Linked DNA regions of Homo sapiens. The protein of the gene in region 1 interacts with the protein of each later gene in a biochemical or structural test. Each region holds a gene or a part of one and is shown in the gene's direction. Other genes may lie near its edges.

Region 1 (3,830 bases):
TCTTAGGCAATCCACCCACCTCAGCCTCCCAAAGTGCTGGGATTACAGGCATGAGCCGCCGCACCTGGCCCTATTTTATTTTTAAATTTCTAAATCTCAAAAAAAATTTTGTGGGTACATAGTAGGTATATATATTTGTGATCGTGCCTTTCTTTTATATGTATTTGAAATATTCTGGGGCATGTTGCTCTCTTTCCCATTTTAGTTAATTGAATACAAGCACAGTAGGATTCTCTTCTCAGTGGCATTATTAACTACTTCCATTTCTGCCTTTCCAGAGTCCTGATAGTTCTGGTGCTGACATCTCAGAGTACAGGTTGGAATGGGGAGAAGATGAAGAATCCTTAGAACTCATTTATCATGGGACAGACACCCGTTTTGAAATAAGAGACCTGTTGCCTGCTGCACAGTATTGCTGTAGACTACAGGTAGGTTGACATTATTCAGATGTTACTCACAAGGACTGCTGTCCCATGAAAGGCACTTTGGGAAACCCACTCAAAGGCTTGTGGTGGAGGCTGTCAGGAGGGATGATATGGAAAAAAAGAGTCCATTTAAATAAAAATATATTTGGTTGTTTTGGTGTTTTGCAGTTAATTTCCACTTCTCTAGGAAATTCTGAAACTTAAGAACAAAATAAGATTCTTCTCCATTCTGCTTCTCACCACCCTTGTATCTTGTCTGTTCATCAGTTTGCTGAATAAATGACCCAAGTCCAAGGGAAAGATGACACAGCTCCTTAGGGAAGGAGCCTTCTGTCTCATTCCCCTGAGATGTACATTTCAGTGGGAAAGACTCTTAGAACTGGTAAAAGACAGAAAATTATTTTACGAGCTGTTAAATGGAGCCAAAAATAATCTGGACTAGTCTGCATTAGATTACAGGACCCCACCTCCCACCTCCCAGTGACGGTTATCAAGGCTGGTTATCTATAAGCTTCCACTTGGGAGTCCAGATAGAATAACATCAAGAAAAATTGGTTCATAGCCTAACCCCTCAGAGTGACAATAACCATGGGTTTACTTTTATTTTACTCTCTTGGCTATATTATTATTTTTTCTGTGTAAAGCCTTAGTCTCTTGAGAAAATAGAGTTCTTTGTCCTCCTCTTTCCATTTGTTCAGTAACATTTCTTGAGCATTATAGTACTTTGTACCAGGATCAAAGGAAGATCAGGAAGAGAGATACAAAGATTAATCAGATGTGGTTGTTGACCTTGAAGAGCTCTGTCTTCATACACATTTAGATTTGAATAGATAAAGAAGCAAAGATGCCAAAGTCAAGTTCCCACCTGATTTAAGTCATGGATCAAATTCGTTATTATAAGTACACCCAATGTCTCTGGTCTCTTTGGAGAAAATATTCGCTTCATAACTTAATTTTTCAGATCAACTGAAGCATTTCTGTTAAATTCAGAAGTCTGCTGTATTTGAAACATTTCTGATTAAACTCTTTTGTTATACACCTTTCTTGCTTCTCGAATGAAGCACCTGGGACATAATTAACCTTTTGACAATGAGTCAGTGTCACAGCAAATTGTCTGATATTTATAATAGTGATGCTGAGTCACTGGGGAAAGGTTAAATTATGTGCCACACTCTTGTTTTTCTACCAAGGCAGGATATAAATAAAGAGCTGTCTGCCACCCCAGTAAAGAGCTTCACTCCATTATGGTTTTTGAGTTTTGGTGTTTCTTTAAAATGTTATTATATCTCCTTCTCTTTCAGAGTCTATGTTGTCTTAGCATTGACTTCCCAAAGCTGCATTATAAAAGATACATTAATAAGAATAGTACCTGCATAATCTTGCCTCGTTGTATTAACAGGAGTAGAAATATATTTTCAAAGGTCTGTGCTTATTTATAATAAAATGAGTCAGATCTTATGAAGGGAGTACTACTTTTAAGATTACCATTGCCACACTAAAGGACTATTGCCAGGAAGGGGGTCTGTTCAAACTATACCAATTTATTGTTATTTGTGGACCAAATATGAATTATTTTCATTCAACATGATTACAAAGTCAAGTTAAACCCCAATATTTTTTGAATATATGGCACTTAAGAATTTAAATATTGGCCGGGCATGGGGGCTCACACTTGTAATCCCAGCACTGTAGGAGGCTGAGGCCGGCTGATCTCTTGAGCCAGGAGATAGAGACTAGCCTGGACAACATAACAAAACCCCTCCTCTACAAAAAAAAAAAATACAAAAATTAGCCAGGCATCTGTAGTCCCAGCTGCTCAGGAGCCTGAGGCAGGAGGATCACTTGAGCCAGGTCAAGGCTGTAGTGACCTGTGACTGCACCACTGTAGGCCAGCGTGGGCGACAGAGTGAGAGCCTGTCTCAAAAAAATAAAAATTTATTATAATACCTGTACTGTGTTTTATAGAAATGTGGTGGAACATTTCTTGTTTTGCTCAGGAATTTTTGAATTTTTGTATTTTCAGGACTGTTTTAATTAAGTACCAACGTAATTCCATTCATAGGGCATGTTGTATATTATAGGCATACTATTATTTACAAAAAGTTGATTTTGAATTAAATTTCATTTGAAAACTGTTAATAAAAAGTGGTGTAAATCAAGAAATGTTTTCCATAGAGCCAAGCTAGTTAAAAAGAAAGTAGGATCCTGCAGTAGAAAAAGAACATTGGAAGAATTGGTAAGATTCTGATTAGGTCTGTATGTTAATAGTATAGTATCAGTGATAATGTTTTTCTTTTCTTTTTTTTCTTTTTTTTGAGATGGAGTCACGCTCTGTCACCCAGGCTGGAGTGCAGTGGCGCGATCTTGGCTCACTGCAACCTCCGCTTCACAGGTTCAAGCGATTCTCCTGTCTCAGCCTCCCGAGTAGCCGGGATTACAGGCGCCTGCCACCACGCCTGACTAATTTTTGTATTTTTAGTAGAGATGGGGTTTCACCAGGTTGGCCAGGCTGGTCTCGAACTCCCGACCTCAGATGATCCACCCGCCTCAGCCTCGCAAAGTGCTGGGATTCCAGGTGTGAGCCACCGTGCCCGGCCACCAGTGATAATTTCCTGGTTTTGATCATTATTCTATAGTTCTGTAACATGTTTCTCTTCGGAAAAGCAGAGTAGGAGATAGACAGAAATTTCTCTGTACTATTTTTGCAACTTTTCTGTAAGTATAAAAGTAGTACACAATAAAAAGGTGTTTGAAAAAATAGAGAAAATACTATTTTGTTCATAATTTTCCCAGTGGGAAGGAAGAAAGTGTAGCTCCTACTGTTGGCCTGATACTCTGCCAGCATTTTACATATTAACCGATTTAATCTTTACTGTAATTCTATGAATTAGGCATTACTGTCCCCATTTTACAGCTGAGGAAACAAGCTCAGAGAAATTAACTAACCTAAGATCACACAGTTGTTAAATGATGGAATCAAGGTTTGAACTAAGCTTCAACTCTTAAAAGCCATGTTCTTGTCCTTCTGTGATATGGTGATACAAAGCCCTAGTTGATAGAAACATTGGGCTCCATGATATCCTATTTTTCTGCCCCTGTGATACATTTATATCAGTACCAAAATCTCGAAATACATACTTATAAAATAATTTGTCATGTTAAAATTTTTCCAGAAAGAGAGTTGAGGTATTGAGGTATTGTAATGAAACAGAAGTGGGTATGACAAAATGTTGCAGTAGAGTTTCAACTGTGATTTAATAGCAAATAAATGCTTTAAGCCTGCTTCTTTGAAATTAACAAAGGAGTTATAAGTTTTGTTTTAGACCTTGATTTAAGAGCTCAAACTTAGCTGGGTGTGGTGGTATGTGCCTGTGGTTCCAGCTACTCAGGAGGCTAAGGTGGGAG
Region 2 (2,906 bases), on another chromosome or scaffold:
GATTTAGATACCAGACCCTCCTCCTTTCCCTTTTCATTAGGTGGAGTCTCAGTCTCACCCTGTCAACCTCACCACCCTGGCACATGTGTTGTCTTGTGACCCTTCACAGCCTTTGGGGAAGGAAGTGGGGGCATAAACTAGAAATTAAATATATCAGTATAGTGGTCTTCTTTTTATAGGATGGCATCATGAAAAAGGAGGGAAAAGATAATGTCCCTGAGCATTTTAGTGGAAGAGCAGAAGATGCAGACTCTTCATCCGGGCCCCTCGCTTCCTCCTCACTCTTGGCTAAAATGAGAGCTAGAAACCACCTGATTCTGCCAGAGCGTTTAGAAAGTGAAAGCGGGCACCTGCAGGAAGCTTCTGCCCTGCTGCCCACCACAGAACACGATGACCTTCTGGTGGAGATGAGAAACTTCATCGCTTTCCAGGCCCACACTGATGGCCAGGCCAGCACCAGGGAGATACTGCAGGAGTTTGAATCCAAGTTATCTGCATCACAGTCTTGTGTCTTCCGAGAACTATTGAGAAATCTGTGCACTTTCCATAGAACTTCTGGTGGTGAAGGAATTTGGAAACTCAAGCCAGAATACTGCTAAACAACATTGCTTCCTAAACTTTCAAGTCCCTTTTTCTAACGGGCATTTCTGATTATTAATTTATTATTAATAATCATGTTTGTCAATGGAAGTTGGCTGCACTTGATGTTTGTTTGCATGATGTCTACCTCAGAATTAAAACTTTAAGGAAGAAGAAACTCTTCTCTGAAAGTTAAAAGTTTTAATAATGCTAGCTAAAGGAGAAAATACTTGGATTGATTTTTTTTTTTTTGGCAATCTAATTATATTGTAAATCAGGTACCTAACAGTTACTCCTTGGAGCACATTTGTTCCTTTACCCAAAAGATGCTGTCAGGGAGCACAGTTAGAAGTTTGCAGAACAGAAATCTCAATATTTTTTTTTATTGGTGCTAAAAACAGGTCTTACATTCAGTCAGACCTGTTCAATAAGTTCATCAATATCTGATAACAGCATTATTTTGATGCTTAAACTTTAAACATTTATATTTACCATTTGCCACCCACAAAGGTCAGGTTTGTTATTTGTTGTTTGATAATTATATTAATTTTCTTGGAAAGATCCTCTTTTCAAGGTACTGGTAAATTGGTGAGTATTTTTATTAGTAAAGCATGAAATAGTATGGTAATAAATGATAAGACATGTATTTGTGGAAAGCTGTAGGGTATTCAGTTTACCCTGGCTTTCCTTTAAGCAGAGGGCATCTTTTTCTCTCCTACAGTCACAAAATGTGTTATCATTAAAAAAAATCAAATTAAAGCCAAAAGTAGGTACATAAAAACCACACACATGCATGCACACAAACATCACTGCAGCCCACAGCAGACCCAGCCGTTGTTACCATGAAGTGACACCACTCCAGGCCTCTCTTGTCTGCAGGCTGGCAGGCTGTCTTCTCTCCAGTTGCCTTCGTCTTGCGCCTGCCTTTGCATTCCTTGCGACGGGCTTTCTTGTTTCTGCGGTTTGGATTCCAGCCAAGGCTGTTTGTATCTCACTACTGTTTATGTGTTTGTGGTTCTGTGATGGTGTTGCTTTGATCCTCAGTTTATTTTCTTACCCATGTTTTTCTTGTTTCCTTCTCAGGATGATTTTATCATCTCATCTTTGAAGTGTTGTTTTCCGAAATTCATCGTATTCCTGAAATTTCTTCTTAGCTGTCTTAGTGCAGTTTGTTTCTTGGATTTGTATTCTCTGGCATGCTCTTTTCCTCTCTCTCATTTTTCTGTAGTATGCCTGCCCTCCTACCCTGCTATTTCTTTACATCTCTCTCATGCTTAACATGGATAGCTGTGTCCAGATCTTCTGTCTGCTCATCCATGTGACTCAGAGAGGAGGGTTCTGGGCAGGGGGGCCTTGCCGGACTGCATGAGAGGACATGAGTTTTGCTTTCTCTGCTCTAATATTTTGCTTAAGCCAAGAATCCTTTTCTTAGAGATGTTCTATATGATTCCTGTCAGGATTTTCTAGTTTTTTTTGGATTATAGCTTGTTCATTTCTTTTGTTTTTAGTTTGGTTTATATATAATGAGGGAAGAAGATGATTACATTATTTTTGTCACTTTGCCATCATTGTTTAGAAGTCATAGAAAGAATTTTTAAATAGGCCAATAAGTCTTAAACTTGAGTACTTGGCTTAGAAGAAAGTCAAAACTCCTTCCTTTTTGACTAAGTGGTTTGTTTCTGGGGAGCTCTTAATTTCTATTTTTATAATCATTAGCCTATAAGGAAATTGTGTCTTCCTTGTTCTCAGGGTGATCTGCTGACCTTGTTCACTCATGAAGCATTTGGGTATCATACTTATAGTGTCTGAAACATAAACTGTATTGAGCTAGACAAGGTATAGCCTCCTCTTCAAGTAGCAAATACTATCAAAAGCTATAATGCAGTAGGAGCAAGGTGGTCCTTGTTCCAGTTTTTGTCTCAGTTCTGCTGCTGATGTACCATGATCTTGGGAAGGTGGTGTCTCAGTGTGGAGATCTGACACATTGTTACCGTGCCTCCTGGCTGGAGGGACTTGGAGAACAATGCAGTTAAGTAGAATGGTTTTAACAATACAGAGAAATTTATTCATTTAGATAAAAATCTGATTTTTAGAACTTTAAAAGCTTTGTACAGTGTAAATAGATTTAATGTATTTAACATGCTTTATCAGCACAAATAAAGGATTTTAAAATTTTGTCAAAAAATTAAATGTTAATACTATCACCATTAAAAATGTTCAAGCAATAGTCTGCCTCCCCACCCCCACACCATCTTGCACCTGTTCCACAGCTAAGTACAGCCCTAGGTTTGGTGTGTATTCTCCATGCATTTAGAGAATCACATGAC

Evidence for each region.
Region 2: the proteins of FNDC3B (region 1) and ERCC6 form a complex in vitro, tested with the Homo sapiens proteins (one large-scale study listed by BioGRID).

The regions. Positions count from the first base shown.
Region 1 is NC_000003.12:172,346,934-172,350,763, forward strand, and holds part of FNDC3B (fibronectin type III domain-containing protein 3B), read left to right. Parts: intron 1-278; coding exon 279-428; intron 429-3,830. UniProt on the Homo sapiens protein: May be a positive regulator of adipogenesis.
Region 2 is NC_000010.11:49,456,508-49,459,413, reverse strand, and holds part of ERCC6 (DNA excision repair protein ERCC-6), read left to right. Parts: intron 1-179; coding exon 180-599; 3' UTR 600-2,906. UniProt on the Homo sapiens protein: Involved in repair of DNA damage following UV irradiation, acting either in the absence of ERCC6 or synergistically with ERCC6. Involved in the regulation of gene expression.